Linked DNA regions of Homo sapiens. The protein of the gene in region 2 interacts with the protein of the main gene of each other region in a biochemical or structural test. Each region holds a gene or a part of one and is shown on either strand. Other genes may lie near its edges.

The links. Proteins that work in one complex are often made in the same cells at the same time.
Region 1: the proteins of UBE2H (region 2) and MARCHF8 form a complex in vitro, tested with the Homo sapiens proteins (2 studies listed by BioGRID).
Region 3: the proteins of UBE2H (region 2) and TRIM72 form a complex in vitro, tested with the Homo sapiens proteins (2 studies listed by BioGRID).

The regions. Positions count from the first base shown.
Region 1 is NC_000010.11:45,532,352-45,539,226, reverse strand, and holds the start of MARCHF8 (E3 ubiquitin-protein ligase MARCHF8), read left to right. Parts: upstream 1-3,855; 5' UTR 3,856-4,016; intron 4,017-4,056; exon of another isoform or gene 4,057-4,125; intron 4,126-5,937; 5' UTR 5,938-6,015; coding exon 6,016-6,117; intron 6,118-6,875. UniProt on the Homo sapiens protein: E3 ubiquitin-protein ligase that plays several important roles in innate immunity and adaptive immunity.
Region 2 is NC_000007.14:129,837,941-129,844,965, reverse strand, and holds part of UBE2H (ubiquitin-conjugating enzyme E2 H), read left to right. Parts: intron 1-5,630; coding exon 5,631-5,759; intron 5,760-7,025. UniProt on the Homo sapiens protein: Accepts ubiquitin from the E1 complex and catalyzes its covalent attachment to other proteins. E2 ubiquitin conjugating enzyme that transfers ubiquitin to MAEA, a core component of the CTLH E3 ubiquitin-protein ligase complex.
Region 3 is NC_000016.10:31,217,114-31,224,138, reverse strand, and holds part of TRIM72 (tripartite motif-containing protein 72), read right to left. Parts: exon of another isoform or gene 7,004-7,025; intron 5,045-7,003; coding exon 4,949-5,044; intron 4,851-4,948; coding exon 4,620-4,850; intron 3,244-4,619; coding exon 3,221-3,243; intron 1,313-3,220; coding exon 1,194-1,312; intron 1-1,193. UniProt on the Homo sapiens protein: Muscle-specific E3 ubiquitin-protein ligase that plays a central role in cell membrane repair by nucleating the assembly of the repair machinery at injury sites.

The sequences.
Region 1 (6,875 bases), on a different chromosome or scaffold from region 2:
GTACCCAGTAGTCATTCAGGGGCAGGTTGTTCAGTTTCCATGTAGTTGAGTGGTTTTGAGTGAGTTTCTTAATCCTGAGTTCTAGTTTGATTGCACTGTGGTCTGAGAGACAGTTTGTTATAATTTCTGTTCTTTCACATTTGCTGAGGAGAGCTTTACTTCCAACTATGTGGTCAATTTTGGAATAGGTGAGGTGTGGTGCTGAAAAGAATGTATATTCTGTTGATTTGGGTTGGAGAGTTCTGTAGATGTCTATTAGGTCCGCTTGGTGCAGAGCTGAGTTCAATTCCTGGATATCCTTGTTAACTTTCTGTCTCGTTGATCTGTCTAATGTTGACAGTGGGGTGTTAAAACTTTCCCATTATTACTGTGTGGGTGTCTAAGTCTCTTTGTAGGTCACTAAGGACTTGTTTTATGAATCTGGGTGCTCCTGTATTGGGTGCATATATATTTAGGATAGTTAGCTCTTCTTGTTGAATTGATCCCTTTACCATTATGTAATGGCCTTCTTTGTCTCCTTTGATCTTTGTTGGTTTAAAATCTGTTTTATCAGAGACTAGGATTGCAACCTCTGCCTTTTTTTGTTTTCCGTTTGCTTGGTAGATCTTCCTCCATCCCTTTATTTTGAGCCTATGTGTGTCTCTACACGTGAGATGGGTTTCCTGAATACAGCACAGTAATGGGTCTTGACTCTTTATCCAATTTGCCAGTCTGTGTCTTTTAATTGGAGCATTTAGTCCATTTACTTTTAAGGTTAATATTGTTATGTGTGAATTTGATCCTGTCATTATGATGTTAGCTGGTTATTTTGCACGTTAGTTGATGTAGTTTCTTCCTAGCCTTGATGGTCTTTACAATTTGGCATGTTTTTGAGTGGCTGGTGCCAGTTGTTCCTTTCCATGTTTAGTGCTTCCTTCAGGAGCTCTTTTAGGGCAGGCCTGGTGGTGACAAAATCTCTCAGCATTTGCTTGTCTGTAAAGGATTTTATTTCTCCTTCACTTACAAAGCTTAGTTTGGCTGGATATGAAATTCTGGGTTGAAAATTCTTTTCTTTAAGAATGTTGAATATTGGCCCCCACTCTTTTCTGGCTTGTAGAGTTTCTGCCGAGAGATCAGCTGTTAGTCTGATGGGCTTCCCTTTGTGGGTAACCCAACCTTTGTACTCTTTCTATCGCCTTCTTAAAACTGGAAGGGTGAGTGAGATAGGGCAACAGTAGCCATCTCCATGTCATCTAGATTAGTTAGATTAGGGATAACACAAAGGAAAAATTAAAATTTTCTCTATCTATCTTAGTCCTTTTACTATTTCTATGGCTTTAATATACTCGAAAGTTCTGCAACCAGCACCATAGTCAATTTTAGAATATTTTCATTATCCTAAAAATAAATCATTGAATCCACTGCTTCCTCCCGTTTACCCATTCCTACCCCAGCTCTTGGCATGCACTGCTCTACTTTCTGTCTCTATAGATTTATCTCCTCTGGGCATTCCATACAACTGTCATCATGTAATATATGGTTCTTTGTGACTGGCTTCTTAGTATAATTTTTTTCTTTTCTTTTTTTTTTTTTTTGAGACAAGGTCTCACTGTATCACCTAGGCTGGAGTGCAGTGGCGCCATACCGGCTCACTGTAGCCTCAACCTTCTGGGCTCAAGCGATCCTCCCAACTCAGCCTCCTGAGTAGCTGGGACCACAGGCATGAGCCACCACACCCGGCTAAGTTTTGAGTTTTTTGTAGGGATGTGGTTTTGCCATGTTGCCCAGGCTGGTCTGGAACTCCTGGGCTCAAGCGATTCACCCACCTTGGCCCCCCAAAGTGCTGGTGTTATAGGCGCGAACCACCACACCTGGCCTACTTAGCATAACTTTTTAAAGGTTCGTCCATATTGTGGCATGTGTCAGTACTTTATTTCTTTTTATTGCTGAATATGATTCCGTTGAATGGATATAGCTTATTTGATTTATCCGTTTATCATTTGATGGACGTTTAGGTTATTTCCACCTTTTGGCTATCATGAGTAATGTGATAGAAACATTCATGGACAAGTTTTCATATGAGGAGATGTTTGCATTTCTCTTTGGTGTATATACCCTAGGATTGAAGTTGTTGGGTCATATGATAACATGTTTAACCTTTTGAGAAAGAGCCAGACTATTTTTCAAAACGACTGCATAGATCCTCACTAGCAGTATATGAGGGTTTCAGTGTCACAACATCCTTGCTAACACTTGTTTGTCTTTTATTATGAACATAATTAAAGTAATATCTAATAGTTTTGATTTGTATTTCCATGATGGCTAATGATGTTGATTAACCCATTTTTCATTGGGTTATTTGTCTTTATTATTATTATTATTATTATTATTATTATTATTATTATTATTATTTTGGTAGAGATGGGGCCTCGCTATGTTTCACACACTGGTTTTGAACTCCTGGCCTGAAGCAGTCCTCCCACCTCAGCCTCCGAAAATGCTGAGATGATAGGCGTGAGCTACTTGCACCTGGCCTTGCCCTTATGTTACTGAGTTGTAAGAGAGTTGTTTATATATTCTAGATACAAGTCCCTTATTACATATATGATTTGCAAACTTTTTCTTCTGTCAGTTGTCTTTAGACTTTTTTTTTTTTAACATTTATAAATAGAGGTAGAGTATTGCTATATTGCCCAGGCCTTTCTTGAGTTCTGGCCTCAAGAGATTCTCTTGCCTTGGCCTCCCAAAGTTCTGGGATTATAGGTGTGAACCATTATGACTGGCTGTGTTTTCCCTTTCTCAGTGGTGTCTTTTGAAGCACAAAAGTTTTTATTCTGATGATGTGTAGTTTGTCTGTTTTTCCTTTTGTGTGAGGAAGAGATCCAAATTTCTTTTGCATGTGGCTATCTAGTTGTCCCAGCACCATTTGTTGAAAACAGTACTCTTTCCCCAAGAAGTGATCTTGGCACCCTTCTTGAAAATCAGCTGACTATAGATACGTGGGTTTATTTCTGGGCCCTAAATTCTATTCCATTGATATATCTATTCATATTCCAGTATGACACAGTCTTGATTACTGTTCCTTTGTTGTAAGTTTTGCAATCTGGAAATGTGAGCTCTCCAACTTTGTTCTTTTTCAAGGTTGTTTTGGCAGATCTGAGTCCCTTGAATTTTATATAAATTTTCAGATCAGCTTGTCAAATTTCTGTAAAGAAGTCAGCTCAGTTTTTGATAGAGATTGCTTTGACTCTCTATGTCAACTTGGGAAGAATTGCCATTTTAACAATATTAAATCTTCTGATCCATGAACATGGACATCCATTTCCAATTTCTTCAACAACCAGCTTTGGCAGTATCTCTTCTAGATGTGAATGTTCATGTTAGGTGGGCTGTATTTTGCAAGTTAGCATTAGTCAAATTGAAGCCCTCATGCCTGGATTGTGAGGCATAGTGCTGAGGTTTAACTGTTATTCTGTGTAAAGATTAATTTAGTTGATATAAAAGATGTTTGGAAATTATGCAAAGAAAATAATGTAATATATGATTTGTATTTTTCATGTAAATCTTCACATAAAAAATGGCATGGCCTGTTTTATCGTTTGTTTGTAAACTCATTTTTATCCTAAATATGTGTGGCATAGGAGGGAGATTGTTTCAGGCAAACTTATAGGTCTGTTGCTTTGTTGTGGTGGTACATATCAAAAGACTAACTTCAATGACAGTGAGGAGGGATGTCCTTCAAAACTGTAAAAAATTTGAGACCCTCTTGCATCTGTGTTTCTGTGCCATAAATAGCCCTTCTCAGGCTTGTCATGGGCATGTACCAATGATGTAATAATGATGATTATATCAGAAGCACCACAGGTAGCTTTTGGCATGGTAGGTATAGGGCTGTGGATATCGTCAGTTTGACCAAGTATTCCAAGAGGCCCCATGGAGTTTGTCATCTGTAATAGAGGACGTTAGTGCATTAGTGATGAAAAAACTGCTTACCACTGACTATTGTGATCTCCCAGGGAGTATAAGGCAGCTCCGCAGTAAGTGCCTCTTGTTTTGTGTGACGTGCTTGAATACAAACATTCAGACTGTTTCTTGGGCACAGTAGTGCTCCATCTTATGCCAGCCTCATCAAAGGCTTGAAATAGAGTAGGTGGTGTGTGATACCTAGACACTAACATCCCCTATTCTATTTTCCTTTTTTTGTTGTTATTATCAATGGTCACTCACTTACTGTAAAACTAGACTTTATAAACAGATTATTATTTTAGCTAATTTTCTTCTATGTGTTGATCCCTCCCAGTTTTTGTTCCTTTTTGTTGTTCATTGATTCTAGAGTTGTGTGAAGGAAGCCATTTCGTGATTCCTGGTGCTCCTCTGCTTGCTTAGTGACACTACTAAGAATTGGCACCAGCCTTACAAACACCTGCCTTTGATCCAGAGTAGAGTTTGGGGAGAGGTAGAGTAAGTGACTGCTTATCAAATGTGACCTTGGGGTTGTCAGGCCCTGTTGTTTACCCTACCTTTTCCTACTGCCTCACCTGTCCCCACCCCCTACCCCAGCACATGGTTAATAAATGAAAATCTCCAAATTCGAGATTCATTCTTTTGGTTGAAGGCTTCCATTTTCTGTTAAAATTTGAACAACATGAAACATTTTACTACATTAAACCTTCTGGATAATTTACGTTTAATTGGTTTTGTATACAGAGTGGGATAGATCTCAGTGGGTAAGTGGGGAGAAAGAACAACACACAATTCAATTATTAGACATTTTGGGGGATGCGTAAGAGAAAACCAGAAACAGGGCAGGAGTACCTGGAATCACTGAAGACAGTTTATGCATACACTGTTATTTTACCTAAAGGCAGCCTTTCTCATGGTTCTTAGGCATGTCATGGTGACCCTTCATATTCCCTAGGAAACCCTTTACGGCAGTGTTTGGCAAACTATAGTCTGGTGGGCCAAATCTAGCCTGCTGCCTATTTTTGTAAATAAAGTTTTATTGGAACATAACTATGCTCATTCATGTACATACTCTTTTTTTTTTGGTGGGGGGGAGGTTGGGGGGTTGGAGTCTCGCTGTGTTACCCAGGCTGGAGTGCAGTGGTGCGATCTTGGCTCACTGCGAGCTCCGCCTCCTGGGTTTGTGCCATTCTCCTGCCTCAGCCTCCTGAGTAGCTGCGACTACAGGCGCCCGCCACCATGCCTGGCTAATTTTTTGTATTTTTAGTAGAGACAGGGTTTCACCGTGTTAGCCAGGGTGGTCTCGATCTCCTGACCTCGTGATTTGCCCGCCTTGGCCTCCCAAAGTGCTGGGATTACAGGCATGAGCCACCGCACCCGGCCCATTTACATGCTCTCTATGGGTGCTTTCATGCTACAGTGGCAGAGTTAATTAGCTGGAACACACTTGGACCACAGTGCCTAAAATATGTATCTTGCCCTTTATAGGAATAGTTTGCCAACAGCTCGTGTAGAGTCTCTACTTTTGGAAGGTTAAGTATGGATCATAGATACCTTGAGTTTAATTTGGACTTCCTAACCTCTGATCTCACCATTATGTGGACTCACAGACAGTGGTTTTAAGGAAAGATCACTGCTTATTTCAGGACAAATGCTTGGTCATGATAAAAAAAAAAGTTTAACTTCAAAAATATTCTTAAAATAAATGGTGGCACTGCTTTGTTTTAATCCTAAGTAGCCAATGGAAGATTATATCTCTGATTATACATGTACGTGATCCACCTGCCTCTTTCAGGTGCTCCCATCTTATTATGAGAAATGTTAGAATTTTCCCCTTAGACATTCATCTTCTATTGTTTTTGAAGACCAAACATTTATGTTGCCGTAACTTATTTAAATATACATATGAATATAAGTATAAAATGTTAAGCTCACTCTTGGAAATTTAAAGTGTTTTAGCTGAGTTATGTTTATTCTCTCTTCATTTTCTCTCAGCTTGAAATCCATGGCCCAAAATGACTCTACCAGTGGAGACTCTCTTCTGTGAAGAAGACGACCAGATAAGAGGTTGGGATGAGCATGCCACTGCATCAGATCTCTGCCATTCCATCCCAGGATGCCATCTCTGCTAGAGTCTACAGAAGTAAGACCAAAGAAAAGGAGAGGGAAGAACAGGTACTGGGAGAGTATCTTTTTTAGTTTCATTATTTTTATTAAATTTTTATTAAAGATGACCTAGAACAGTGCTTAAACTCTAAAGGTCAGGTTTTCTCTGATAATATACTGACAAGCACACAAATAGTTGTACTCAGAAGGAATTGTCTTTTTGTAGATTTCTAGGTTTTCAGATTTTGGTGTAAACTACTGTTTATAAATGGTTATAAATGACTTATCTTCATTGGTTAAATCTACCTGATTATTTTTGGTTAATCACTGTGACTAAGTTCTTTGGATTCTCAGAACATGATGCTGCTAGTTTCCTATTCATCGTAGTGTGAAATTTGGACACCAGATGGCTGGAATTTCTTAATATGTGTCTTAGTCTGCCCTAGCTGCTGTAACAAAATGCCATAGCCTGGGTGGTTTAAATAACAAGCATTTATTTCTCACAGTTCTGGAGGCTGGAAATCTGAGATCAGGGTGCCAGCATGGTTGGATTCTGGTGAGGTCTTACTTCCTGACTTATAAACAGCTGCCTTCTTGCTGTGTCCTCACATGGCATAGAGGGAGGAAGGAAGCAAGCTGTCATGTGGCTGTTCATATAGAAGGACTGATCCCATGGAGAGGGTTCCACCCCTAGGACCTAATTGTCTCCCCAAGGCCCCACCTCCAAATACCATTACATTATGGATTAGAGTTCTGGCATAAAAGTTTTGTGGGAAACATAAACATTTAGTCCATAATAGTGTGTACATGGGGAAGCTATACAAACT
Region 2 (7,025 bases):
GTAGAGACAGGGTTTTGCCACGTTGGCCAGGCTGGTGTGAAACTCCTGACCTCAGGCAGTCCACCTGCCTCGGCCTCCCAAAGTGCTAGGATTACAGGCATGAGCCACTGTGCCCAGCCTGTTTTTAAATAGTAAATATGAATATAAATTATATGCCTAAACTGAGATATGAGTGTTATAATTTTAACATTAATGTAAGATCAGACTGAAGAGTCAGTGCTAATGAACCACATTTTGGTTCTAATTGAGTCTAAGGCAAAAGTAAGAGCTGTTTGCTCATCATAAACCATATACTCAGGAATCTTGGGACTTCCTTTAAAAGTTAAGACAGGCGGAAATGGGGTCGGCTGACTGTACTCTACAGGTTTAGGTCAACTGTATCTGGCTCTCTTCCTTTAAAAAAATTGAAGGTTAATGTTTTTAGATAAAGATCTTTGAACTGACACATTTTTATCGTTATTATTATCGACACATTTTTATCGTTTTATCATTAACAAAAATCTAGGGAAAAAGTGTTCTTTATTTTTCTACAGATGAGTATCTTTATTTTATTCTTGATTTATAGTTTTAGTCTTCTCTGCCAGTGTATTTATCTTGAAAGAAGACTTTCTGCACATCTGCACATTTGAGAGATGCTCCTTTCAGAAGCACCCTTAGGAGTAATCACTGTGTTAGCCACTTGCAGGAAGGCCTTATTGCTTTAAGATGGCAGAGCCATCACATCCTGGCCTCCCGAAGTTGTCATCTTCACCCAAAACTGGGCCTCATGTGTTTCCTTTTCTGCTCTTCTGTTTTACAGGTGTGACTCAGCACTTCTGTAAAATGGATCAAAAATGTGTTAATGCAGGAAGACGGTAGATACAGGAAGGAAGAACCAATAATTAAGGGTTCTTTTATTTGTTTGGAACAAATTCATAGGCAAAGCCTTTTATTGGTAGCTTGAGGAAACTTAAAAGTAGTAGGAAAGGGTATAAAATCTCTTTCTGGGACACGCTAAACTCCTAGTTTTATAACACGTTGTCTGTGATATTTCTCTAGCCCTGAAGCACTTCTGAACATTACTTCAGAACATAAAACCTATGCTTTGTTTTTAAAGGTTTTCGTTGTTATGTAATAGCATCCAGCTGCTAATCCTTTTGAGCAGCACCTGTAATAATAATATGGCAGGAGGAGCCTTCCGTTCGCTGTGTGCAGGTGTCTGCGGGTTACCTCCTGCGGTGGAGCTGCATGAAAACAAGCACACCGTCTCTGTGAATAGCCACAGAAACATCTGAACGTCCTTTGCTTAGCATGCTTCTTTGCACTTGTGAGGGATTCTTTGGGGAGGAGGGTGATCATCTCTGATCCATGGATTTAGCTTCCCTGCCAGCGATGGTATGCGATTTTGACCCAGAGACATGGGGAGCTTGTGCCTTCGTGAAATTTGCGGCAGCGGCAGTGTGTGTTTTATCCATTAACAGAGGCAGCATAGTGGATGAGCTCAGGTTTGAGTTCCTGATCCATACTTAAGCTCTGTGTGCCTCAATTTCTCCATCTGTAAAATGGTGCCTACCTCATTGACTGTAGTGAAATTAAGAGTGTATATGCAGACCATGGAAGAGTTCCTTGCTTGTAGTAAGCACTATGTAAGCATTAACCTGCCATTACTGTTAATATTACTGTTAATGGGCCGGGCGCAGTGGCTCACTCCTGTAATTCCAGCACTTTGGGAGGCCGAGGCGGGCAGATCACGAGGTCAGGAGATCGAGACCATCCTGGCTAACACGGTGAAACCCCTTCTCTGCTAAAAATACAAAAAAATTAGCTGGATGTGGCGGCGTGTGCCTGTAGTCCTAGCTGCTGGGGAGACTGAGGCAGGAGAATGGCGTGAACCCAGGAGGCGGAGCTTGCAGTGAGTGGAGATCACACTACTGCACCCCAGCCTGGTTGACAGCAAGACTCTGTCTCAAAAAAAAAAAAAAAAAAAAATTACTGTTAATGTAACTATTGTTTAACTTTTCCCTGCTATGGGATCACATTCAATTGTAAAACTACTGTTTTTTGTTTTTATTTTTGTTTTTTTGAGATAGAGTTTTGCTCTTGTTGCACAGGCTGCGGTGCAATGGCGCAGTCTGGGCTCACTGCAAACTCCACCTCCTGGGTTCAAGCAATTCTCCTGCCTCAGCCTCCCAAGTAGCTGGGATTACAGGCACCTGCCACCACACCCAGCTAATTTTTGTATTTTTAGTAGAAACGGGATTTCACCGTGTTGGCCAAGCTGGTCTCAAACTCCTGACCTCAGGTGATCTGCCCATCTCAGCCTCCCAAAGTGTTGGGATTACAGTTGTAAGCCACTGCGTCTGGCCTGTAAAACTGAATTTGCTTACCTTTTGGCATTTTCTACCACTGCCTTAATAACTCACCCACCCAAGGATAAAGATAAGAAAATAAAAACATTTTCAGACTTTTCATGTTTTATTGGATATTTCAAACATATGCCAAAATAGAAAGGACATATTTACAGGAAAATGTTATTTTTATTTTATTTATTTATTTGAGACAGGGTTCCACTCACTTGCCCAGGCTGGAGTACTGTGGTGCAATCTTGGCTCACTGCAACCTCCACCTCCCCAGGTTCAAGCAATTCTGCCTCAGCCTCCCAAGTAGCTGGGACTACAGGCACGCGCCATCACACCCAGCTAATTTTTTGTATTTTTTAGTAGGGACAGGGTTTTGCCATGTTGGCCAGGCTGGTCTCGAACTCCTGGCCTTATGTGATCCACCCACCTTGGCCTACCAAAGTGCTGGGATTACAGGTGTGAGCCAAAAATGTTGATTTTTAAAGGCAAAAGAAATGTCATTTGAAATGTGAAAAGTAGAAGTTACACATCTATTGCCTTGAGGTAGCTTTTTAAAATGTTTGTCTTATGCATACACACTGTACATAGTTGTAATTCTAGAAAACATACCATTTTATGGCCTTTCTCTACCCAGCATTCAAGTATAAGCATTTTTTTCATTGAAAACAAATAGTTTTCAATGGTTTTGTACCATAATAATTGTTTCCCTTTTTAAAAAAATTGTAGATAAAACATTGGTGAAAATCTTACTGCAGATAGTTTGGGGGTTATATAGGAAGGTGATTTTTGTTTTGCTTTTTTGATTAGGAGTGTCAGGATTTCTTTCGTGGTACATGAGAACCTTACTATAAAGTGGCTCTTTAGGACCGTTCTGAAGTCAGCCTTATGAAGGTGAAATAGACTCTGATGAAATCACCCCAAGTCTGTGGCTTTTGTTGTAAGGCAGAGCTGCTCTGTGTCAATACCTGGTGTGTGAGAACAGGACGTGGTAGCTGTCATGGGACCCTCTAGCCCATCATTCTCTAGACCTGCACTGTCCAATACAGGATCTACTAGCCATGTGTGGTTATTTAAATTTAATTAGAATTAAATAAACTGAAAATTAATTTCCTTATTCACACTGGCCATATTTTGAGTGCTCAGTAGCCACTTATGGCTAGTGGCTATTGGTTTAGGTGAGCACATATAAAACATTTTTATCACTGCAGAAAGTTCGGTTGAGTAACACAGCTCTAGATTAGTCTCTAACTGCTCAGCTTCTTAACCTTACAGTGATAAGAGCCACCTCTTATAGGTAAGATTTTCTAGAGCAAAGTTGGGCAGACCTTGGGTACTTGTTTTTGTATATGTAGTTTTATAGGAATACAGCCACATCGATTTGTTGACCTATACTTTGGCTGCTTTTGTGTTACAGTGGCAGAGCTGAGTTTTGAGTAGTTATGACAGAGACCATATGTGGCCTGCAAAGCCTAAAAGTATTTGACCCTTTACAAAAAGGTTTGCCTACCGCTTTTATCTAGATCAGGGTTTCTTAACCTCAGCACTGCTGACATTTTGGTCTAGATAATCCTTTGTTGTGGGGCTGTCCTGTGCATTGTGGTGTTTAGCAGCTTCCCTGGCCTTCACCCACCGGATGCCAGTAGCACCGCTTAGATATGACAACCAAAAATGTCTCTAGACATTGCCAAATTCCATGGGGAGCAAAATCACCCTTGGCTGAGAACCACAAATCTCAAGCAATGTGGCTTGGCAAAGCATTCATCTGTAATACTGCAAAGGAGCGCCCATTGTTAAAAGCAAAATTGGTTGAAAGAGCTGACTAAATTAATGAGTAGTTTTTTATGCTACTTAGTATACTTCAGCATTGTCTCCAGAAACAGGAATGTTTTATATAAAACATGACAAAGCAGCTGGAGTGGGGCAGAGACATGGAAGCATTCTCATGTCCTTCCATTTCTCAGGGGTGCTGCAGTTCACTGAGGAGCAGAGTGTGGAAGTTACAGCATATCTGAGCTATGGGGTGTGTGGGTTGTGTTATACCCAGGTTCTCAGGGCCTGCTTTTCTAAAACGCTGGGTAACTGCAGGTGTTTGTTGTTTGCTAACTGTGTGTAGATATCATCTGTGTATGCCTGGCAAGAAAGGAGTTAATAAATGTCACGTCTATAATCCCAGCACTTGGGGAGGCCAAGATGGAAGGATCTCTTGAGTCCAGGAGTTCAAGACCAGCCTGGGCAGCATAAGGAGACCCTGTCTCTATTTAAAAAAAAAAAAATTAGCTGGGTATGGTGGCACATGCCTATAGTCCAATTTACTTGGAAGACTGAGGCTGGGAGGTTGGCTTGAGCCCAAGAGTTTGAAGTTGCAGTGAGGTATGATCACACCTATGCACTCCAACTTGGGCAACAGAGTGAGATCCTCTCTCAAAAAAAAAACTTTTTTAAATAAATAAATGCAGTAGATTGGTGCTTATCTGTCTTATGAATATTTGTAGTCTTATGTGGTCCATATAGATTCCTATCCTCATTACCCAGAATAATTGAAAAATTGGTTATATTTACCTCCATTAGAAGTTGCAAGAATTGAATTAAATGTCAAGTCCTATAAAATTGTGTTCAAGGCTGAGCGCAGTGGTTCACACCTGTAATCCCAGCACTTTGGAAGGCCAAGGCTGGCAGGTCACTTGAGGTTAGGAGTTTGAGACCATCCTGACCAACATGGTGAAACCCCGTCTCTACTAAAAATACAAAAATTAGCCAGGCATGGTGGCAGGTGCCTGTAGTGCCAGCTACTTGGGAGGCTGAGGCAGGAGAATCGCTTGAACATGGAGGCAGAGGTTTCAGTGAGTCAGGATTGCACCACTGCACTCCAGCCTGGGCAATAGAGCAAGACTCTGTCTCAAAAAAAAAAACAAACAAAAAAACCCCACAAAAACTGTCTTCAATTCTTTTAAGACCCAGCATCTGAATACCTTTCAGAGTGGGGGGTTTTGTAAGCTGTAGAAAATGGCTGTGTGAAATAGCCATATAAATAGAGTGAAATAGAATTGGGAAAATTGTCCTTCAAAGTGAATGTCAGGTATATCTTTATCTCGTTCTTCAAATTAAAATTAAAATGTTTAAATTGGTATTGAAATGAATGTGTAATACAAGTCACATGTAATAGAGCACACTCGTATGGAGAATCATCCCCGTGTGAATATCTAAGAAGGTAAGCAGCTTGACTACTGAATGCAAGTGAATTTTAGGTGAACTTGCATTTCCCATGTGTGACATGTTTGTTTGGTTTTTCAGATCTTACCAATATATTTGAGTCCTTCCTGCCTCAGTTATTGGCCTATCCTAACCCCATAGATCCTCTCAATGGTGACGCTGCAGCCATGTACCTCCACCGACCAGAAGAATACAAGCAGAAAATTAAAGGTAAGAGGATGGGTAGTTTAACCTGGAGACAAAAGAACTTAAATCTGTTGGGCTTCAGTCATTAAAAGTCCTTCTTAAATTACTTAGTTCCTAATACTTTTTCTTAGGCCTAAAAAGAGACAGCTGTGGGCTGAAGTAGTGCTCACCAACCTCGGGTGGCAGTAGCACCAGTTTGCTCATCCTTTGCGATTTAGAATCCTATTTTCCCATCCTTAAAACAGTTTACGTGCTGATGGGATATGAGTTTCATTTAAATGAAGATAAGTTTGCGACTGGCCGTGGTGGCTCACGCCTGTAATCCCAGCACTTTGGTAGCCCGAGGCAGGCGGATCACAAGGTCAGGAGATCGAGACCAGCCTGGCCAACATGGTGAAACCCCATCTCTACTAAAAATACAAAAATTAGCCTGGTGTGGTGGCACGCGCCTGTAGTCCCAGCTACTCGGGAGGCTGAGGCAAGAGAATCGCCTGAACCAGGAAGCAGAGGTTGCAGTGAGCCTAGACTGTGCCATTGTACTCCAGCCTGGGTGACAGAGCAAGATTCTGTCTTTAAAAAAGAAAAAAAATCTAAAGCTCCACCTGGGTTCATTGGATTTTCCATTTTACCTCTGTGTATGTTTCAGAACTTTCATAGTGAAAAGTCTAGATACATGAAGCTCCACCAAGAAGCAAAGGAATTCAAAGTTTGTGAAATATACCTGCTGCTTTTAACCAATGGCAGGCATTAGTATCTAGCCAGTTTTTCACATGATGGGCCTATCTGCATAGCAGTCCAGAATGTTTGCTTCCTCAAAATGTGTGGCCTCTCTGAGGTACATTTGCAAGAGGTGGCAGTAGAAGTAATTTACCAGAGCTTGAATGTGCAGGTCTTCACTCTGAAATGTGCAGGTATGAGGCAAACAGGGACTATTCATGAAACAATAGCTTTTCTTCTATTTGTTTTCTAATTCTTCTTCCAAGGTCTCTATAGGGTATTGTTTGGAGCTGTTGTTGAGATAAAGCAGAAATAAATTTACTATAATTAATTAGATCTCAAGTGCTTTGCAAATTAATATCTAATTTATGTAGCAAAATATATAGCTAAGCAAACATGTATTTGAAGAAAAAGGCAGTCAGTTTCAGCCAGATAAAGTGCTGTTATGAGACTATATTAAAATTTTGACATAGGAATCACTTAGCAATGTCTGCAAACCACAGATATCTTGGAGCAGAGTATATTTCTCTAGTTCACATATGCATTCTGTCTCAACAATTTAGCAGTAGCCCT
Region 3 (7,025 bases), on a different chromosome or scaffold from region 2:
CGCTGGGGTCTTCTCCCAACCAATTGCAGGCCAGCTTTCTCTCCCCTAATCCTCTTGGCATCTCTGCTCACTGGGCTTGGGCCACAAGATCACACCTGGCTCAACTTCAGTTTGCCCAGCTGTGAGATGAGGCCATGATTGCTTCCCTCCAGGGTTGCAGGCAGGCCTGCATTTTCTTTTTGTTTTTGTTGTTGTTATTGTTGTTGTTTTTTGTTTTTGTTTTTTGTTTTTTTGAGGCGGGGTCTCACTCTGTCGCCCAGGCTGGAGCGCAGGTGCAACCTAGGCTCACTGCAACTTCCAACTCCCAGGCTCAAGCAATCCTCCCATCTCCCATCTCCCAAGTAGCTGGGACTACAGCCACGTGCCACCACACCTGGCTAATTTTTTTAAGTTTTTGTAGAGACAGGTGTTCTCACTATGTTGCCCAGGCTGGTCTCCAACTCCTGGGCTCAAGTGATCCTCCCACCTCGGCCTCCCAAAGTTCTGGGATTACAAGCGTGAGCCACCGAGCCTGGCCAACAGGACTAAATTGATACAAGGCATGGGACTCACCATCTGAGGCCCAGACAAGGCCCAAGGCCCAAGGTCAAGGAGCCTGATCTTCACATCAGCCTAGACCCAGTCTCTGAGCCTTAGTTTTATCTTGAATAAAATGAGGCTGTCTGCATTCCCACCTGCGCTGAGGCAGGAAGGGCTGCCCCAGCAATGTGTATGTCCCAGAGCTCTGTAACCTGCATCATCCAGCTCTTGGGGGGAGGAACTGAGCCCTTGGGCCTCCCCAGCCACAGGCCGCCAGAGTCACTCTCTGACCCAGGCCAGTCCCCAGGGTTCCAGGAGCTCTGCAGAGCCTCAGTCCCCAATTGGCAGGATTTATCATCTCCACCGTCCAGAGAGGGGCAGAGACTGACCAAGGATCACACAGCAAGTCAGTGGCTCAGACCTAGGCCCCAGCGTCCCGTGCCACCAACAGCAGCAGCATTTTCATGTCAGTCACCCACTGCAAACCCCATGCTCTCAAAGGCCCTCCTCCCAACACAGGTTAGAGGACTGCAGCGGCAGTCCAGAGGCAAAGGGGCAATGGGTACCTCCTTCAGTGGCCTCCCCAGTTGGGACTGGGAGGCCTCTCCAGGGTGGCTAGGGCCTCCCATCAACTGCCTGGTCACACACAAACCTGAGCCAGTCCCTCCCGGTACCTGGCATCAGAGCCCGGAACATCTTCCTCCACACCTGGAATTTGAAGTCATCTGAGATAATTGGCAGCTGGATGTCCAGACGGGCGGGTGGGGGAGACTCTGCCAGGATCTTCTGCAGCCTGGGGGTGGGGAGGGGAAGGGGAGGCATGTGTGAGGGGGGAGGACAAGGGCTGGGGGGATTCCAGGATCTCCCCACATCGCACCCCTGCTTAAAACTCTTCCTTTGGAGTTTTGGTTTGGGAAGATGAGAAAATTCTGGAGATAAACACTGGTGATGGTTGTACAATGTGAATGTACTTAGCACCACTGAATTTAAATGCACACTTAAAAATGCTTAAAATGAGCGAGGTAGAGTGTAGTCCCAGCTGCTCAGGGAGGCTGACTCAGGAGGCTCACTGGAGCTCAGAAATTTGAGTCCAGTCTGGGCAACATAGCAAGATCCTGTCTAAAAAAAAAAAAAAAAGAAGAAGAAGAAGCTGAAAATTGTCAATTTTATGTTACATGTATTATTTTACCACTGTTTATTTGGTTTTGGTCTTTTTTTTTTTTTTTTGAGATTGAGTCTGGCTCTATCACCCAGGCTGGGGTGTAGTGGCATGATCTTGGCTCACTGCAGCCTCTGCCTCCCCAGTTCAAGCAATTCTCCTGCCTCAGCCAACCAAGTAGCTGGGATTATAGGCGCCTACCACCATGCCTGGCTAATTTTTGTGTTTTTAGTAGAGGTGAGGTTTTGCCATGTTGGCCAGGCTAGTCTCGAACTGCTGACCTCAGGTGATCTGCCCGCCTCAGCCTCCCAAAGTGCTTGGATGACAGGCGTGAGCCACTGCACCCGGCCCAACTACATTTTCTTTTAATCCTTCTGTTGGGATAAGGTCCAAGCCTCTCAGCTTCGCCAGTGTGCACACACCTACTACCGCAGCTTCCTCTTCCCTCCCACTCGCCAGCCCTCTCGCTGGCTGTCCCCTCTCCCAGCAATGCCATTCTCCCAGCAACACCCTTCTCCCAGCAATGCCCTTCTCCCAGCAACACCCTTCTGCCAGCAACACCCTTCTCCCAGCAACGCCCTTTTCCCTGCAATGCCCTTCTCCCCACAATGCCCTTCTCTCTGCAATGCCCTTCTTCTCCCAGCAATACCCTTCTCCCCGCAATGCCCTTCTCCCAGCAATGCCCTTCTCCCAGCAATGCCCTTCTCCCCACAGTGCGCTTCTTCTCCCAGCAATGCCTTTCTCCCCGCAATGCCCTTCTCCCCACAATGCCCTTCTTCTCCCAGCAATGCCCTTCTCCTAGCAATGCCCTTCTTCTCCCAGCAATGCCCTTCTCCCAGCAATGCCCTTCTCCCAATGCCCTTCTCCCCAGCAATGCCCTTCTCCCCGCAGTGCCCTTCTCCCCACAATGCCCTTCTCCCCACAATGCCCTTCTCCCTGCAATGCCCTTCTCCCCATAATGCCCTTCTCCCAGCAATGCCCTTCTTCTCCCAGCAATGTCCTTCTTCTCCCAGAAATGCCCTTCTCCCAGCAATGCCCTTCTCCCAGCAGTGCCCTTCTCCCCGCAATGCCCTTCTCCCCATAATGCCCTTCTCCCAGCAATGCCCTTCTTTTCCCAGCAATGTTCTTCTCCCAGCAATACCCTTCTTCTCTCAGCAATGCCCTTCTCCCCGCAATGCCTTTCTCCTCACAATGCCCTTCTTCTCCCAACGCTTTGCCTAGCCAGCTCCTGTTCATCCCTCCAGGCCCCAACTCAAACATTCACTCCATCCCTGGCCACCTCTTTCCCTCAACGGCCACACTGAGCACACAGTGACGCCTGTGTCCCCACCCACATGTGTCTCACGGCACCAATCTAGGAGGTCCCTGAGTGAAAGGATCCTTCCAGATCATTTCTGTCTACAACCTTGTGTTCAGGCAGGGGTGGGGCAGCAGACTGAATTGCGGGTGTGCAGGCACAATAGTGAGTGGAGAGTGAGCCGGCTGGTGTCCCTAGAAGACTGGGACAAGTCGGGCAAAGGGACAGGGCCAGGTTGCTCTCACCTGCTGGTCACCAGGCAGTATTTCTGGAGAGAGAGAAAAAGAGAATGGTGGTGAAGCCGATGGTGGGGACACTGGAAACTTTTGAGGATGGGGTAGACAACTAGGAATGCTGAGTGCAACGTCAGAAAGAATCAGAAAAGCTAAAAGAGGCCAGACGAGGTGGCTCATGCCTGTAATCTCAACACTTTGGGAGGCCAAGGTGTGTGGATTGCTTGAGGCCAGGAGTTCGAGACCAGCCTGGCCAACATGGTGAAACCCCATCTCTACTAAAAATACAAAAAAAATAGCTGGGCATGGTGGCAGGCACCTGTAATCCCAGCTACTTGGGAGGCTGAGCCACGAAAATCACTTGAACCCGGGAGAAGGAGGTTTCAGTGAGCCGAAGTCATGCCACTGCACTCCAGCCTGGGCAACAGAGCAAAGCCCTGTCTCAAAAAAAAAAAAAAAAAAAAAAAAAAAAAACGCAAAAGAGACCTAGAACTCAAGGCCACCCCTACCCCTTCACTTTTATGTGGATTACAAAAAGGTATCTTTGCCTCCAAGAAACTCTGATTCCACCTGTTAGAAAACTGTCCTAATAGGCCGGGTGCGGTGACTCATGCCTGTAATCCCAGCACTTTGGGAGGCCAAGGCAGGCAGATTGTTTGAGCCCAGGCATTTGAGACCAGTCTGGGCAACATAATGAGACCCCCATCTCTACTAAAAATACAAAAACTAGCCAGGTAAGCGCCTGTAGTCCCAGCTATGGGAGGCTGAGATTGGAGGATTGCTTGAGCCTACAAGGCTGCAGTGAGCTATGATCATGCCACTGCACTCCAGCCTGGGTGACAGAGTGAGACCCTGCCTTTAAAAAAAAGACCAGGCGCGGTGGCTCACGCCTGTAATCCCAGCACTTTGGGAGGCTAAGGCAGGTGGATCACAAGGTCAGGAGATCAAGACCATCCTGGCTAACACGGTGAAACCCTGTCTCTACTGAAAAATAGAAAAAATTAGCCAGGCGTGGTGGCGGGTGCCTGTAGTCCCAGCTACTCGGGAGGCTGAGGCAGGAGAATAGCATGAACCCAGGAGGCGGAGCTTGCAGTGAGCCAAGATCCTGCCACTGCACTCCAGCCTGGGTGACAGAGTAAGACTCCATCTCAAAAAATAAAAAATAAAAATAAGAGTGTCCTAATAAATATATAAACCTACAATGTCTATGATATGAATAGTGCTCACTTAATACAATGTCCTTATGCAGTGCTCAACCTAAACAACCATATAGCAGTCCTGAGGCCTGCCCCTCCCGGCTGTGTGCTGCTGGCTTATCCCTGCCCCTCTCTGGGCCTATCTGACAATGGGATGAGGTCTCTGGGCCCTGAGCAGGGGGCTGAGGCAGGGAGGGGGGTCACCCAGTGCTCACCATGAGGAACTCAGTCTGCGGCTTGTCCGCCACCTCCTCCAGGACCTTCTCCATCTGCCGCAGCTGCTCCAGGTAAGAGTTCAGGCTCCCCAGCTCCCGGCGCAAGGCGACCCCTGCCTCACCCCGTACACGCTCTGCCTCGCGGTCCAAGGAGCCCTCCAGTGCAGCCAGGAACACCCGCATCTTGCCCAGCTGCTCCCCCACGGCCCCCCGGAACTGACGCACTGTCTCCTGCAGGGATGGGGCAGTGATTGAAGGGATAAAGACTCTTGGCTGGAGACCCCTAGCCTGGCCCCCAGCCCTCAGACATGGCCCTGTGAAGTCCTCACCTCCACCTCCACCAGCTGATGCTCCAGCACAGCCACACTCTTCTCCTTGCGCATGCATGCCTCCTGCAGCTGCAGTTTCTGCTGTGGCAGCTGTGTCTGGGGGTCGAGGCATGGAGAAGTGATGGGGATGCCACCCACCCAAAACCCACACCTCCCATCCTAAACCTGCCCTCTGTGGCTCAACCTCAATGCCAGCTCCTCCTCCAGCCATCTTCCCATCCCCAAACCCACTTACATGCCTCCCAGCCCCAGCCAGTGCTACTCCTGAGGTCCGAATGCTTCCCCTGCCCCTTGTCTATTTTGGTGCGGTTTTTTATTTATTTATTTTGGTGTTTTGTTTTGAGACAGGGTCTCACACTGTTGCCCTGGCTGGAGCAGTGGCATGATCACAGTTAACTACAGCTTCAACTTCCCAGGCTTAATTGACCCTCTCACTTCAGTCTCCCAAGTAGCTGGAACTATAGGCACACACCACCGTGCCCAGCAAATTTTCTGATTTTTTTTTTTTTGAGTTGGAGTCTCGCTCTGTCACCCAGGATGCAGTGCAGTGGCACAATCTCAGCTCACTGCAACCTCCACCTCCTGGGTTCAAGCGATTCTCCTGCCTCAGCCTCCCAAGTAGCTGGGACTAATTTTGGTGCACCACCACGCCTGGCTAATTTTGGTATTTTTAGTAGAGACAGGGTTTCACCATGTTGGCCAGGCTGGTCTCAAACTTCTGACCTCAGGTGATCCACCCACGTCAGCCTCCCGAAGTGCTGGGATTAGACATGAGCCACCACTCCTGGCCATGATTTTTTAAAATATTTTTGTAGAGACAATCTCACTATATTGCCCAGACTGGTCTCCAACTCCTGGCCTCAAGCAATCCTCCCACCTCAGCCTCCCAGCATGCTGGGATTACAGGCATGAACCGCCACACCCCCAGCCCCTTGTCTGTTTTGTTGACCCCTCCCTGGCCTTGCCTTCCCTGATCCCCTCTGCTCAGCAGTCAGCCCCATAGCACAGGTCTTTGCGAGGATGACAAACATCAGTGTGGTTTGGTCTCTCCCACCAGACAGGCAGGCACAGAGCTTGGCACACAACAGACCTCAGGGGGTACATGAAGGATATATGAAAGAAGAAAGGCAACCTACCCCTACTCCTGGGCTTCCTCTCTTACTTAAAAGCAGAACATCAGCCTCAGTCAGCCTGTCAGCCTGACCACCAAGTCAGCCTGCCTGTACACACATGGGCTTGGAGTAGGGGGCAGGAAATTTAATTAAAATGTCCCCTGCTGGCCGGGCGTGGTGGCTCACACCTGTAATCCCAGCACTTTGGGAGGCCAGGGCGGGTGGATCACGAGGTCAGGAGTTCAAGGCCAGCCAGACCAAGATAGTGAAACCCCATTTCTACTAAAAATACAAAAATTACCTGGGCGCTGTGGCAAGTGCCTGTAATCCCAGCTACTCGGGAGGCTGAGGCAGGAGAATCACTTGAACCAGGGAGGCGGAGGTTGCAGTGAGCCAAGAATGTGCCACTGCACTCTAGCCTGGGCGACAGAGCAAGACTGCATTTCAAAAAAAAAAAAAAAAATGTCCCCTGCACAGACCAACCATTCTGTGGTCTAGATCTTACCCAAGACCTCAAATGCAAATATGCAAATATAGGAGAGCTCCCAATACTCCTGCCAAAGCCATTTTTTTTTTTTTTTTTTTTTTTTTTGGAGACAGGATTGCCTAGGCTGGAGTGCAGTGGCAGAATCACAACTCGAACTCCTAGGCTCAAGCAATCCTTTTGCTTCAGCCTCCCGAGTAGCTGGCACTACAAGCATGAGCAACCATGCCAGGCTACAAAGCCACTTCTTTGCTGGGAGGTGCCTGACCATGGAATCAGTTCCATTCCTGCCTCAATGACTTGCAACCTGTTTCCTCCTCTGCAGATTGGGAACAGCAATCCCCACCTCAACAATTTGGCGCCCCCACTCTCCCAGGGGAAACTGGGGGACCCTCTAGGCGGTGTTTGCAGAGTCCCCTCCCAGCAGGAGCCACAGGGTTGAATAGGAGCTGCCAGATCAGTCTCCTTCCCGGGACATCCC